2 separate regions of the Homo sapiens genome follow, and region 1 is linked to region 2. The links come from fine-mapping of genetic effects on gene expression. Tissue or cell type: B cells. Region 2 holds a variant in brackets; the other region holds the start of a gene. All regions are shown on one strand. Distances are between the middles of the regions.

Evidence for each region. PIP is the estimated chance that this variant, and not a neighbour inherited with it, causes the effect.
Region 1: RAB30 starts here. The variant in region 2 is fine-mapped to the expression of RAB30 in B cells (Fairfax 2012, PIP 0.95). The same link has a PIP of 0.9 or more in whole blood.

Annotation. Positions count from the first base shown.
Region 1 is chr11:83,066,919-83,075,023 of GRCh38, reverse strand. RAB30 (RAB30, member RAS oncogene family) reads left to right here and starts at 3,127. Exons shown (of 5, transcript NM_001286060.2): 1 at 3,127-3,333. RAB30-DT (RAB30 divergent transcript) reads right to left here and starts at 2,958. Exons shown (of 3, transcript NR_038903.1): 1 at 2,878-2,958; 2 at 2,220-2,401; 3 at 1,312-1,721. LINC02951 (long intergenic non-protein coding RNA 2951) reads left to right here. Exons shown (of 3, transcript NR_186233.1): 3 at 2,328-2,622. RefSeq lists enhancers at 2,685-3,174, 4,938-5,167, 5,188-5,237.
Region 2 is chr11:82,977,810-82,985,917 of GRCh38, reverse strand. It overlaps RAB30 (RAB30, member RAS oncogene family), which reads left to right. Exons shown (of 5, transcript NM_001286060.2): 5 at 3,503-8,108. The coding sequence ends at 3,753. Among named protein-coding and RNA genes, the nearest start is that of SNORA70E, 60 kb to the left of the region's middle. The variant G/T (reference allele first, on the strand shown) is at 4,438.

The DNA.
Region 1 (8,105 bases), 89 kb before region 2:
CCACCCAACTCTTGTAGACTCACCTATAGTTTTAAAAACACAATACTTGGTTCTAACCCTGGAGATTTCAACAGGGATGGGAAGGTAACAGCCATATACTTTTAGAGCTGTATAGGTTATCCTGACACCTCTACTGAAAAAAACCCTTGCTCTAACAGCAATTGGCTTCATACTCTTAAATGAGCTACCTATAATTTTAATACAAATCCATGTCCTAATTCTCTTTATTATTTTTTTGAGATAGGGTCTTGCTGTTGCCCAGGCTGGAGTACAGTGGCTCAATCTCTGCTCACTGCCACCTCCACCTCCCCAGTTCAAGCGATTCTCCTGCCTCAGCCACCCTAGTAGCTGGTATTACAGGCGCACGCCACCACACCTGGCTAACTTTTCTATTTCTTGGAGATGGGGTTTCGCCATGTTGGCCAGGCTGGTCTTGAACTCCTGGCCCCAAGTGATGTGCCCATCTCGGCCTCCCAAAGTGCTAGGATTACAGGTGTCAGCCACTGTGCCTGGCCCTAATTCTTTTTTGAGAGATGAAAAGCTTTACCTCCTCTAGATATTCCTAATTCCACTTTAACAATATTTTCCTAAGTTGTGGTGTTTCTATGGGACACTGTTATTTTTTCAGAAGCTGGCCTCCCCAACTCCTCAAATATCAATTTTATAAATAAAATTTATAATGAGTGCAGGATTTTTTCATCTTTATGGTCAGATGTCCATTAGATACAAGGATAGAAAAACTTCAAACTACCCAAACACATGACAAATTATAGAAATCACTGTATTCTAGAGGTATCACTTCTCAAACACAAGCTTTCTTTCTTTTTTAAAAACAGACATAGTCTCACTGTTGTCCAGATTGGAGTACAGTGACACAATCATAGCTCACTGCAGCCTCAAACTAATGGGATCAAGTGATCCTCCTGCCTCAGCCTCCCAAGTAGCTAAGCCTACTGGCATGCACTACTATGCCCAGCTCACACAGAAGGTTTCTGAGTAATCTGTTGCTCTTTTTCCCTACAATTTGTCTTCCATATAACTCAAACTGACAAGGCTATGGCTTACATAAAGAAATATATTATAAATCAACAACACTCATGATAAGTTTACATAAGACATGAGAATACACCTGAATCACCAACCGGGAAAAATGATTGAAGAGCTTGAAATTAAGCCTAAGTGTAAGTCTCTGTTAAGCTTACAACATTACAATAGTTAAATCGAAGGTTAGAAAGAAAATGGTAGACATTGCTCCTTTTCCTGTACTTACCACCATTACTTAGAGAAGTTTCTGAATAACAACAACTTTGAGCCTTTTTCATTGTTGTATTCATGGATGACACCAACACATACTACTTCTGCTTAAAAATCAAACTCATTCATCTTGACTTGTTCCCAGAAACATGACACAGAAGATCATTTTTTGAAAAAGTATTTTTGTAATTACCATCTGCATACACCTGAGAGACTGTTTCTAACATGTTTTGGTCATTTTTAATCATTCTATCTGCCTTTCTTTGTTATAAGGATCTATTTTTAATTTTATTCACTCCTAACATAGAGGGGAAGTGCATACCTTCAATGACGCAAAGTAACTAGTTAATGTTGTTTCAGAATAATATGCAAAAGGGAAGGGAGGAAACAGCACAAAGTATATCATATTTTTACACATCAGACACCTTCAGGAAGAAAGGACATTTCTCATCTTAGTGTGACAGACTCTGAAAAAGAACACACAGCACTGTTTCAGTGACACAAGAAAAAAAGTACAGTTCATTTTGAGATACTGTGCAAAATCACTCAAAAGACAATTAACTTTGGTTTCAGTCACTTAGTTAAAAAAAAAATTTATCCATGACCGATGTTACTCTGGAATCTATTGCCAGACGTCAGAAGGCCTATCATCAATAATATCCCACCCCTCCCGCCTTTTCTGAGACACGGGCTTGCTGTCGCCCAGGCTGGAGCACAGTGGTAGGATCGAGGCTCACTGCAGCCTCAACATCCCGGGCTCAAGCGATCCTCCCACCTCAGCCTCTAGTGTAGCTGCAACTACAGGGGTACACCACCATGCCCAGCTAATTTTTTTGTTTAATGTTTTTGTAGAGACGGTACGGGGTCTCCGCATGTTGCCCAGGCTGGGGTTGAACTCCTAGAATCACGCTATCTCCCCGCGTCTGCCCCCAAAGTGCTGGGATTAAAGGCGTGAGCGACCGCACCTGGCCAATATCCCCTTTGAACATCTGCTTTCGCTGGTTGGTAAAAAAGTGTCATTTTAAATTTAGTGTTACTCCTTCAGGCTATTCCCTCTCTCTTCTTACTTGCAGGGCCAAAGCAACGTCTCTTTCCACCTTGGTCACCTTCCAACAACGATTTCTTCGGACGCCTTTGTTAATCATTCCTGTATGAAAAATCAGTGAATCTGAAGCTTTGGGGAGAGTGAAAGGGGGTTGGAAAACAAACGGCAAAACAAAAATGCATTTCGGAGGACTACCCCAACTCTGTGGGTGGAAGTGGGCTTCTCCGAATAAAGGCGAGGGTCGCCGCCTCGGGTCCTCGCACCTCAACAAAAGACACCAACTCTCTCAACTGTACTGTTAACAGATCTAAATGATACTCCAAGCCCAAAAGTAAACCGACTCTCTCAATCTCTTAGCTAAAAAATGGAGAAGGAAGCGTAGGGCCCCATGCAACCCCTTCAGGAGCTGAGACCGAGGCTCACTGGGCCTCTGGATGCCGCTTCCAGTCGGTCCCGCCCTACATCAGTCCCCAGCATGGCCTCCACCCTCTGGTTCCCAGGTTCGTGCCCGCGGCTATCCGACCAGATCGTCCTCCACCTCACCGTCCCCACTGAACCACCACTTGACTCCTGCGCACCCCTAAAACCTCTGCCCGGCTCCGCGGAATCGTCCCAGTACTCCTAACATGGCGGCCGAGTCCCCTTTGCTCCTTCACTCTGGGCGCGTCCCACTTGGAGCATTTTGGGCATTGTAGTTTCGGGGATTGCCTGGGTATCCCTTCAGGACGTAAGAAGACTACAGTTCCCAGAAAGCACCGCTCCCGAGCATGGCTATTGGGGACGTTTGGACAGAGGGATGATGTCATTGCAAAAGCCCCACTGCATTCATTGTGCTACGGTCTCTCCACCCCCTGCTGCTGCTGGGCTTGCGATTGCCGCTCGCTCCAGCTGAGCTAAGTGTAGCAGCAGCACCAGGGCAGGGACTGACTCCAGCCCTTGGACTCAGGACATCGCAGACCTTCCCTTGCGTGCGTGACTCATTCGCACATCCATTTCTGTTTATGCCTGGGGTGGGGAGAAAAATCCCAAACCAGGTGAGTTGAAGTGATTTATTCAAATGCTTCTACCAAGTTATTCCTCCCGCTTAGTTCTCAAGGCTTTCTTTTGGGAAGCTGTGAGCGGTGGGGAGGTGGGGGGGATTGGGGAGAGGCTTGCAGGCACAGCTAAGGGGAAAAGCTCTGTGCCATTTGGGTCACTGCAAAGAACAACTCCAGCAACCTTCCCCCGCCAGAGGACGGGTGCCTGCCAATTCCCTAGTCGCAACTCCTCTCAACCTTTTTGAGGCGGAGAGAGGGGGCTGGGCTGGGAAGGATGTTGGGGAGTGCTCTTGGAAAATCTGAGGAAGGCAGAGGTGGGGGACTGCAGTCCTGTCACACACGGCCCGAGAGCTGAGGTTTGAGTGGGAAGGGGTGATGCGTGGGGAGAAATGGAGACAGTGAATTAATGTGGTCGCACTACTTTAGAACATTTGAATGTCGCTTGGACGAGCACTAGTTATTAATTTTTAAGATGAACGTGCTTAAGTTTTGTAGGGCTTTATTTTATGTGTGTATGTCTATGTGGTTTGTCTCGCCTTTTCTGCTGATTTGAGGTGACAGTGTCCTTTAATGGTGCACTCCGTGCCAGTCAGAAACATTTCACGTGTCTGGCGAAGGTTCTTTCAGGCTGCTGGAAGCAGCGTTTTTGTTAAATGTTTTCCGTTCTCCGACTGCTGGATTCAAGATTGTTTGGAAGTGGAGCCGACAGATTTGTGCTTGTGTGTTTTAAATTACATTGCATAGGCTCTTTGCCACTGACAATGGTACCATAATGAGCTGCTGTTTCCTGAGGCATAGTCACTACTCACAAATAACGGTTTGAAGAGATCGATTAGGGAAGAGGGGTTCATTTTAACACATTAGAGAAAGGGAAAGTTAGAAGCGCTGTTAACCTTCATTTGCCATTACTGAAAGGTGCCCATGGAAGAGTGATTTTGGTTGTTTTGTTATTGTTGTTTTTTTAAACGAACTGACATTTAACAGGAGAGAAAGCATTCTGACTTACATGATGCTCTTGTAAGAGTTATAGGGATAATTAGGGCAATAGATATGTTACTTTGAGATAAACAGCTGGCTGGCTCCACAACAGATGGGGCCAGTCTTGGCTGAGAGATCTACACCCTTGGAAATGAATGGGCCTGGGGTCAACCACACCCCCTCTTGGAATGTCAAAAGAAGGAGAAATGCCAGAGTATTTGCTTAACTCTAGAATGCTAAACCTTTTCCTAGCTGAGTCAGACATGGGCGAAATTCTTTACTGGCTGTCTTCTGCTGCTAAGCCAATTTTGTTCATTTTAAATTCAGATCCTTAGGTCTCCAAAGTTGTAGCTGTGTGATATTTCATTAAATGCTGCTTGATGCTGAATGCAAAGGACAGTCCATTGTATGGGCTTTGTAGTAGAGTGATTTATTGGGATGCCAATGAGCAGCTTTTGGATTTGGGAAAAGATCAACAGTTAGCCTTTGCCTCTGCGTCTCTCTGTTGATGACGCTCTGCTCTTCTGGACACCCTACCCTTCTCTCCTGTACTTTCATTTCTTCCCCCCACCCCACCCCATCCCACCCACATCTCTTGAAATTCTGTTTATTTCTCTATCTCTCCATTTGCAGTTTACATTTTTCCTTTCTGTTTCAAAACCCCTCCTTTATCACCAGCATATCACATCTCTTTCTCTTCAATCTTAGAACACACTCCCTGGTCCTCCACTTCAACTAGGAACTCCTGGGTGGATGTAGACTATGTGAATATTTTTGCAGAATCCTCTTTGAAGAGAATTTCTTTGCCTTTTCTTTTTCTTGCAGTCTGTGCTTGGCAGGATGAGCAGCAATGAGCCTGACCCCTGGTCTGGTTTGTAGTTCCTGTGACAGACATAATTTAGCCCCAGCAGCATGTGAACAATGAAATGCTGCAGTTGGGCTCATGCCACTTTTCCTTTCACTGGCACCTGCCTATGGATTAGCAAGGTTTTTAAATGCTCTACATGAAATGTTCTCATAATTCCCAAGGAATAAGTAGTCTTCAAGTGGCTTGCCTTATACAATACATTTTTTTTTTCCTTATCCTTGCTGCAGCTGGTGGTGGGAAGGCTGATCTTTCCCCCCTCTTTCTTCCTGTTCCCTGTGGATTGCTGAGTAGCAATCCAGGTGGCCAAACTGCCCATTTGGTTTTTTGAAGATACTTGGAGGACAACAGTTCCCCACCCACCCTGGTTGTTTCTTCTCCTCTGTGCAGGAAAGAAGTTTGTTATTTTATTCTCTTCTCTTAACGGGAAGAGTGTGATAGTGGCTATATTTGTTTATGTAACAGCAGTGCTCCTCTAGGTGTGGAAAGTCTAACTGCTATCCATCTGGAGGCAACTAGTGTAACAGGCAGATTCAGAAGCTGTCCTCTTAGACCTTTTATGCACCATCTTCTCATTCCTAATTTTCTTCTTCTGAAATACTTCCTTACCCACCAAAGTTTCTTTTATTGTCCTAGGGAGGAGAAATGGGCTGAATGTAGTGTTAGATTTGGCCTCATCACTGCTGTCTCTGGGACCTTAAATAACTATTCATTTCTTTCTGCTTCGGTTTACTTATTTGCAAAGGGATAATGATCCTTGCTCTTTGGTTTACTGATGTTATAGCCCTCTATAATCTGGCCCCAACCTATAATTCTGACAATTTATATTGATTGAGCAGCTACCATGTACTAAGCACTGTGGATACATCAGTGAAAACAAATGCTTTCCCTGACTTCATGGAGCTTATATTCTAATAGGGGATATACTTAATAAATAATTGCAAGTGTGATGAATGCCATTTCCAAAAGGGTTGGGTAGGAGTGCCTGACATGGTACTTTCCCCTTGTCTAGGGTTATCAGGAAAGGTTTCCTATAGGAAGTGACACTTCAAGAGACTTGGAGGGTAAACGGAAGTAGTAATTCAGGATGGCAGTGGGAGATGCTTATAGTGGGACAAAGGTTTCTGGCAGAGGGAACTTCATGTTCAAAGTTCAAAGGGAAGAGTGGTGAACCTGAGGATTTGAAAGGAAGTTAGAGACAGAGCAAGAGGAGAAAGACTAGAATGAAGAATGAGGCTGGAGAGGTGGGCAGAGGCTAGAGAGTAGGCAGTTCTTTGAGCTACAGGTGTATTTTGGTCTTTATCCTAAGGCTAATGAGAACCTAGCCTGGCTTTAAAAAACTAGATGAATGGCATATGTAGGATGATATTAAAATATTATCCTGGCTGTTAAGTAGAGGAGATTGAAGGAAAGACTTGGTCAGAGTGAATGTGTAGAGACCAAGTAGCAAATAATTTTTGTCGTCTGTATGAGGGATGATGGTGCTTAGATCTAGGGTGGTGACAGAGGGTTTAGAGAGACACTAAGTTTTTTGTTTTTTTTTTTTGAGACAGAGTTTTGCTCTTGTTGCCCTTGCTGGAGTACAATGGCGCAATCTCGGCTCATTGCAACCTCCGCCTCCCAGGTTCAAGCAGTTCTCCTGCCTCAGCCTCCCTATTGTCTGGGATTACAGGTGCCCGCCACCATGCTCAGCTAACGTTTGTATTTTTTTTTTTTTTTTTGAGACAGAGTCTCACTCTGTCGCCCAGGCTGAAGTGCAGTGGCATGATCACAGCTCACTGCAGCCTCCATCTCTGGATTCAAGCGATTCTCCTGCCTCAGCCTCCCAAGTAGTTGAGATTACAGGCACCCACCACTCCCAGCTAATTTTTATATATTTAGTAGAGATAGGGTCTCACCATGCTGGCCAGGCTGATCTCTCAAACTCCTGACCTCAAATGGTCCACCCGCCTCAGCCTCCCAAAGTGCTGGGACTACAGGCGTGAGCCACCGCACCTGGCAACTTTTGTATTTTTAGTAGAGATGGGGTTTCACCATGTTGGCCAGGCTGGTCTCGAACTCCTGACCTCAGGTGATCCACCTGCCTCTGCCTCCCAAAGTTCTGGGATTACAAGCATGAGCCACCATGCCCGGCCGACACTAACTTTGAAAATTGTAATTGATAAGATTTGTTGATTGATTGGATGGGGGGATAGGGAGAAAAGGGAGTCATGAAATGACTTGAGTTTTTTTCTTGAGCAACTGGGGATGACGTTTTCAGAGAAAGAGAACACTGAATGGGAACCAGGTCTTTTTGTTTTCCGAAGGGAGGACCTTTGGACATGCTGAGTTTGAGGTTCCTGGAAGACATCTAAGATCTTTCACTCTTGCTGTCCATGTGTAGGATGTGGCATGATGGAGTAGAAGAGAGCTCTGGACGAGGCTTTCTCACACTGGACACTGCTTATTTATTAGCTGTATGATGTTGGACATATCACATTTTTTTTTCTGAGCTTTAGTTTCCTCATCTGTACAATGTATTTATTCCAATAGTTTATACTTACCCCAGCATGGAAAACAACAGTATACTCAGTTTACTTATTTGTTATAACAGTTTTCCATGCACCATGCTAGGAAAACAACATTGAATAAGATACTGTTTACTTCGGAGGAATTCACTCAGGTGAGGGAGACAAACGTAAATAATCACGTACAAAGAGGTACTTTGGCAATACTAGGCTAGGGGGTAGGGGTGATGGGTGCGGGAGGCATCCACACCTTTGATCCTAGACATGAAGGCAAGCAAAAGCGCTCCAGACTGTGTTTCCAGGCACCCAACAGAATGCCTCACACAAATTAGGGACTCTAAATGTTGGTAGAGTGAGTGAATTAACCTAAGTCACTAAGGGCCTATTCAAAAGCAGGAAATATCAACACATTGGAAGAG
Region 2 (8,108 bases):
AGCCCAGCAGTTCTGACCAGCCTGGGCAATGTAGCGAGATTAGCCAGGCATGATGGCATCTACCTGTGGTCCCAGCTACTCAGGAAGCTGAAGCAGGAGGATCACCTGAGCCCAGAAGTTGAAGGCTGCAGGGAGCTATGATCACACCACTGCATTCAGCCTGGGTGACAGAGCCAGACTCTTTAAAAAAAAAAAAAAAAAAAGCCAAGTAAGGTCCATATGTTGTAATTGACAGCTACATCTTTTCATCCTTTTTTATGAAGTTTCCACTCTCATTTTTTTTCTCTCTTAGAATTTTTTGCTAATGCATTTGTTTGACCTATAGGCTTTACAAGTCTAAATTTTGTTTTATCGCCCCAAGGTGTCATTTGATATCACCTCCATCACCTATATTTCTTGCAGATTTATAGATAAGTCTAGAGGCCTGATGAGAGTCAGGATTTTTTTGGTTTTCTTTTTAGACAAAACACTACATATATCATACTCTGAGGGGTAGTTCTCATAGAACAGGCAGGAAGAATGCTTGATTCTTTTTTGTTCACCACTTTTCAAGGTAATAAGCTGGTTCTCCAGTATCTTCTAAAAGTTAACTATTGACATCTGTTTATATTTGTAATATTATTATAAATTTATAGATTTAAATAGATTTGATGGGCTGGGCATGGTGACTCATGCCTGTAATCCCAACACTTTGGGAGGCTGAGGCGGGTGGATCACTTGAGGTCGGGAGTTTGAGACCAGCCTGGGCAACATGGTGAAACCCCATCTCTACTAAAATATACAAAAAATTAGCCAAGCATGCCTGTAATCCCAGCGGGAGGCCAAGGCAGGAGAATCTCTTGAACCTGGGAGACACAGGATACAGTGAGCCGAGATTGCACCACTGCACTCCAGCCTGGGCAACAGAGCGAGACTCTGTCTCAAAAACTAACTAAATAAGTAAATTTGATGTATTTCAGTCCCTTGCAATTATTATTATTGATGCTCCCATTGTTCCGACTTTGCCAGTGGGAGCTTCTTCAAATGGGCTCCTGAGTCCTTTTGACATGACCCCAGGAATGTTGGATAATTTTTTTGCTTTCTGGTATGACAAGTGTTCCAGCCACAACTTGTGCATTTCCTGCCCCAGACCTGGAATTAGCCATTTCTTCAAGAAGTGCTTTCTTTTCAATGGGAAGTCGTATTTAGAGGCCACAACCGAGGTGTTAGGAGCCCTCCTGATGGGCCATTGTTTTTAGGCCTTTCAGTGGACAGAGCTTGTGTGTATGTGTGCATGTGTGTGGTGGATTCTGTAGTATCCTCAAGAGAGTTTTCCTATTAGGTTCTGCTAGCGTTCCGACTCACAAGACTACCGTAGACCACGCGTGGCATCGTGTTCACTTAGAAGGACACAGGACAGGAAATACAGCTTGACAGCAGATCAGCATCCGGCAACCCTCTTCAGTGGAAGTAATCCCAGTAGCAGTCCACGTAATTTTCCAGGACCTCCTACCCAGTCCGCAACCCCCAGACGATTCTAGTATGAGGGAACAAGGCTCATGTCAAACAGATGGAGGATCTGCCTTGGCCTAGCAGCCTCAATACCCCATAGGAGACTAAATCTATTATAACAACTCCACAATCATAACTTCCAGGGTCTCTTCAAATGAAGTCACCACATTCAGGGAAGCTCAAAGTTATGGCTTTCCATTAGGTATTTATAATTCTTAGATAGAATTCCCAGGCCAGAAGTCATTTATCAATCAGGGGTCATTTTTACCATAAGCGGTGTTGCCAGATAATACAATTGACACACCTTTGTCAGGTTTCCTGGAGAATTTGAGGTAGGTGGAAAACTTTTTAAAGATAAAATACATCATGAATTATTCATACTGATACTTCTATTTATAATTCAGGACTGCAGAAATTTTACTTAACCACATTAATTTTATATTTATATTTCCTTTTTCCTATGCCAAAAGTCCCAGTTCCCAATGGTACCAGCATAATTACTCATTTGCTTTATCCCATAATACACAGATAGCAACCTCAGAATAATAATACCAACAGTACCACCAAAAAGATGATTACTGAAACAGTTCAAGATTGTTTCCTTCAATTCTTTTTGTCCTTAGGCTATATACCACTGGGGTTGCACTGTTAAATTACTGTATCTTAAGCACCTTGAAATAGTTACTCTGTTGGCCCGGCTCGGTGGCTCAATTGCGTGTAATCCCAGCACTTCTGGAGGCCGAGGCAGGTGGATCGCTTAAGCTCACAAGTTCAAGACCAGCCTGGACGTGGCGAAACTCTGTCTCTGCAAAAAATAAAAAAAAAAAATTAGCTGGGCATGGTAGTGCCTGCCTGTAGTCCCAGCTACTTGGGAGGCTGAGGTGGGAGAAGATGGCTTGAGCCCAGGAGGTGGAGTTGCAGCAAGTCAGGATCGCGCCACTGCCCTCCAGCCTGGGCAATAGAGCCAGACCTTGTCTCAGTTAAAAGAAAAAAAGGGTTACGGTCTGTGTGGTTATTCCACACATGATGAACATGTTCATTTGTTTAATTTTGCTCTCAGTTTTTAGGGATTGCTTTTTAAATTTAATTTTGAAATTAATTGTATAATTATATAAAGCATTTTTAAGTTCCTAAAGTAAAATCTACAAAACAAAGTATATTCAGAGAGGTCTGGTTTCTATTCCTTTCACCTCAACCCTGTTCCTTTCATAGGTAACCATTTTCTTTTAAATTAAGATTTTGGTCTAGTCTTCTATTAAAAAAATAAATAAAATGTGTGTATAATATATGTATTCATATCCTTCCCTTTTTCTTGGATAGACAGTTGCGTATTGTATATGCTTTTTTTTTCTGCTTCGCTTTTTTTTTGGTTAACAGTATATCCCAGTGTTTCCATTACATGGCAGTATATAGAAATACTCCTAATTGATTTTTATGGCAGCAAATACTCCATTGGGTGGATGTGCCATACTTTATTCAGTCAGTGCCCTACCGATGGACATTTGGGTTGTCTCCAGTTCTTGCCATTATGAATGGCACTCATTTTTTATTTATTTATTTTTTTTGAGACAGAGTCTCACTCTGTCACCCAAGCTAGAGTGCAGTGGCATGATCTCGACTCACTGCAACCTCTGCCTCTGGGGTTCAAGCGATTCTTCTGCCTCAGCCTCCCAAGTAGCTGGGACTACAGGTGCGTGCCACCACACCTGGCTAATTTTTGTATTTTTAGTAGAGACGGGGTTTCACCATATTGGCCAGGCTAGTCTCGAACTCCTGACCTGGTGATCCACCCGCCTTGGCCTCCTAAAGTGCTGGGATTACAGGTGTGAGCCACTGCGCCCAGCTGGCACTCATATTTTAAAGTAAACATTTCAGTAATCACAGTCACATTTGTTTTGTTTTACTCGCCCATCTGTCTGGCTTGACTTCAGATATGGAGTTGAATTTTGATGCTTCTCAGCCTGCAAAAAGTCAAATGCTGATTCTTTATTTGATTTTACTACTGTTATAGGCAACAAGATTGACCTGGCTGAAAGGAGAGAGGTTTCCCAGCAGCGAGCTGAAGAATTCTCAGAAGCTCAGGACATGTATTATCTGGAGACCTCAGCCAAGGAATCTGATAATGTGGAGAAACTCTTCCTTGACTTAGCATGCCGACTCATCAGTGAAGCCAGACAGAACACACTTGTGAACAATGTATCCTCACCCTTACCTGGAGAAGGGAAAAGCATCAGCTATTTGACTTGTTGTAATTTCAACTAAAGGCTGAGGCACGGAGAAGAAAAGGAATCAGCAACTGCCCTGATGGGCCATGAGATGCTGGGGAGATCTGGCGATGACTGTGGCTCCCGCTCTCTGACCTTCTGACTCCTGTGGGCTCCTGAGCTTACAAAGCATGGCAGGCCAAGGGCCTCGACCACAGGCCAGCATTAGCAGAACATATAATGGTTTCACCCTTTTCCAGTCTGGAGTTGGAGCAAGGAGAAAATTGCACTAGGCACTCCATGATCTGCAGAGCATGTTGCTTTTGTTTTTTTAAAAAGCAAGTAAAAGCGCATTCCTAAACAGAGTCCGGGGGGAAATGTACTGTAGGGATCCCTCCTGCACATCAGTGGGTGCATGTGGGAACTCTTCTTTAGGGCTTCGGTGGTAATCATCTGGGGGCCCTGGTTTTCTTGTCTACCAGATAAACCAAAACTGGGAAGGCCAAGTACAGTCTCTGTGGTGCGTATTGACGACCCCATGGAGATTTTGAAAAGTGTTATTTCTCTTGTCCACAGGCACTTTCAAGAACTTTGGGATGTAAAAATGAAATGAAACCTTTACCCATGACCAACAGTAACAATCATTGTTTTAATAATATATACAAGCTCCATAACTCCTTTTGGTGCTAATGATTCCGCTATTTCACAGACCAAACGTTTTAGTACATTAATGTCCTTAAAT[G/T]TGTTATATAGAAATAAAAAAATGGGGGAAGTCCATGAATCAGCACTCTTTCTCAAAGTCTCATTACTACCTTTTTAAAGGTGGATTTTTGGGAAAAGAGAATACTTTTCCTTTTATGTTCCCCTCTGAATCTCTACCACTTTCTTGTCTCTCCAGCCCTTTATGTAAATGAAAACGTTTGCAAAATGAAAAAAATAAACAAATGGTTGATGACATTCTAATATAAAAACTTAGCTCTAACACATTTTGAGTAGTATGAGGAAACAGACCAGATATGACCAAAATACTGTGGATTAATGGACTGTAGTGCAGGGCTCCTAGCAGAGCACAGTCCTTGATAGTAGGTCACATCTTTTACTTCCTGGTACTCTCCATCTTGGACAGACCAAGGCTTAGGATTTTGTAGATTTTTTAGTATGATAAGTGAGAATAGCAACAGATGAAAAGTCTCACGACCCATTTTTATATCTTCGATGATAACCTTAGAAAAATTCTGCTCGTGGAAGCAGATTGAACTGTCATTTATCCCCTCCTTCTTGTAATAATGTTACCTTCAGACGCTTAACCATATGTTCTTTCTTTTTTCTTTCTCTTTTCCTCTCTATTTTTCTGGTCTCTCCTTTTCTTCTTCCCTCCCTCCCTCCCTCCTTCCCTCCCATCCTTATATGCCTGTGTTACTGCAAATCTCCAATTCAAATGGAGGTGTATATGCCTTTACTTAGCCAATTTAAAAACAGGACTCAAAATGGGAGATGTGCTGCTGAATATGTGTTTCTTTTTCTTCAGTGCCATACTTTGATAGCTTCCAATTTGTTCACTGATATAAATGCAAATTGGGAAAATAATTAAACCTGTATGCTGTTGATGCTGTCAGATGTTTCTGTAGCTTGCTGCTTAGCATAACTGAGGGATGAGTAATGGAATAAGGATATGATGTGTAATTCCACTGTTGCTGTAGATGGTGACAATCTCAGTTCTGATATGTTGATGTTTGAAAGCTATTTAATTGTAAAGAAATTAGTCATGTAGAGACATGATGTGGATAAAGCATTTCTGGCATTTCTCTAGCAGGTTCTAGATTGACCAGTGTCTTGCACATGAGATTATGCATATTTTTTAAGGGGCTGATACTTTTGGTTGGCCTCACTGTGTTTTTCCTGATCCTGTGGGAAAGAGAAAGGCATCCCAGAAGTTTGACTTGTTTTTCTTTTAGAATCTGTCTCTGCAGGAAAGAAAAGTCATTTTAATAAAAACCAAAATAATTTATAATAATTGTTGCCTTTCCCTCCCCATCCTCTCCACTAAGCCAGCAACTAAATGTATTCAGAAAACAAGTTAATCAAGGAGGGCAGAAGAATTTTTTTTAAACTGTAAGAAAATGTTCCTAAGTTTAGATTTATTACCTGTCATTTAGGGCAAAAATCCAGTGTCCCCAGCACATGATGACCCAACTTTGTCTCACAGTTGCAAGTGTGTTGAAAATAAAGTTGCTTTGTGAACTTAGAGGAAATGGCTGTGTTAGATTGGACTGATTTAGTTGCAAAATAATACCTTTTAGGGTCACACTTGTATTATTCCCTAGGGTTTAGCCTTCTCTATATACCCTTGGCCAGACTCAGAAGGGGATTAAAAAGCTCTGGTCTTGGCCTCTATCTTCCTTGTTGCTCCTCCCAGCCTTTCCATAACTTACCCATCCACAGCCCATCAGCAGGAACACATGAGAATGTGGGACTTTGTTTCTTTTTTTCTTAGTTGTATGAATTCCAGATTAGGCCTTATGGATACTTGTCTACTAATATATCTGAAGTTTGAAAACAATCCCTGACAATATTGTAGGTGCAATAAATATTAGTCAAATAAACATTTAAGTGCCAAGGTGGGGTGGTAGTGGTTGGGGGAGCTTTTTTTGATTAAACAGAAATTCCTTCAAGTAGAACTTGAGAAAGGACACTAAATACAGTCATCTTAACCCAGGCCAGAACCTAAATTTATTGGTTTGCCTAACAGTCTTATTGTCATGGCAATATTTGCTAAGATGAGCCTTCTTTAGATAAAAATGAACTCTCATTTAGTGGTGGATGAAAAAAGAGAAATTGCTTTATCATATAGTTTAATTTGGCTCGGTCTACTAAGACCACCAGGGTTGATGTATTCCTCCATTTTTGGTGTGATCTTTTTCTTCATTCAATAAAGTTATTAAATATATGGCAAAACTTTTTTCAGTTTCCAGTGAAAATGCATGATACTCATGTCATGGAGTCAGGCTTGGGAAAATCTATGAAATAATAGTTTGCTGATAATGATATTTTCTTATGGCTTTGTATAGACTACATCCTCAAAGGATTTTGTGCTTCTTTGCCCATAGAAGGCTTTTTCTCCCTTTGTGTGCTTTTATTAAATCTGTTGAATTATATTAATATTTTTTGAATTTACAGGGCCAATTATCTTTTTTGATGGATTACTTAGATTAGGCCATGGGTTCTTCCTGGCCTTTCTTTTTCTCGGTCTTTTAATCATTTCACGTTTTTATCTCTCCCTGAGTAAAGTGGCAAGAAAACTAAAAATGAAAGTTAAATGGGTTGATTTGACAATGTGTCAAGTTCTGATTTAGAGTTTATAAGGAAGGTAGAAACGATTGGCCAAAATAAGATATTTGGATGAGGATTATTTAAGCCGTTTAGATTTGGCCAGAGACGCCAGATTTAGCAAAGGACTGGGTTCTTATCTTCTTTCATTCATGAATATATGCCTTGGGAGGACACTGGTGATTCCCACAGAATTAGGCCAATGATTTGCCACATTACCCTTTAAGCTAGCCCATAATTCCACCAGATCCCACACCAAGTTTCAGTTCATGACTCATACTGAATAAACGTCAGTTGTAAATGATGTTTGAATTGGTCTTCCTACTAAAGTGAAACATCTTCTTTTAAGCCAAGCCACATGAATGAAATAGCACAATCAGAAAAAAATCTTTTTTTTTTTTTTTGCATATCAAACCAATGGCCTTCTCCACTAAGCCAGCAACTAAAGGTATTCAGAAAACAAGTTAATCAAGGTGGGCAGAACTTTTTGAACTGTGAGGAAATGTTCCTAAGTTTAGATTTATTACCTGTCATTTAGGGCAAAAATCTAATGTCTTTTTTATTTCTTAATCTTGTAGAACTCTGTATTTCATAGTAATGAGTACTTAGGGATCATTGCTCTATTAGCCTCTGGGAGAGATCTTCTAGAGTTTGCCATTCCTTTTTTTCCAAAATTTTTTGTTGTTGTTGTTGTTGTTTTAACTGCAACTGGTTACTTTTCTCAACCATGGTCCTGACATGTTTATACTATGATACTTTTGAGACTTCGCTAAAGAATTAAAAGCTGTGAAACAACATTTGCTTCTCATCCTTCAGACAAAATGTGTTCCATTTAAGCAGCATGGTTAAACACTAATTTTGGGATAAGGGAGGGATATGTTTTCTTTACTTTCTTTTTGGATTTCATTTCTGTGGCATGAGCCTATTTGCGTTTGGAAGGAAAGATGCCTTCCTTTACATTCTTCACACTGGTAATTTTTTCATACTGAATTAAGAAATTATCATCCCTTCAAAACACATATTAATATAGCAACATTAGAGTAAGGGAGATGGCATTTCATCTCCTCTCCTCAGTCCCTTGATGTT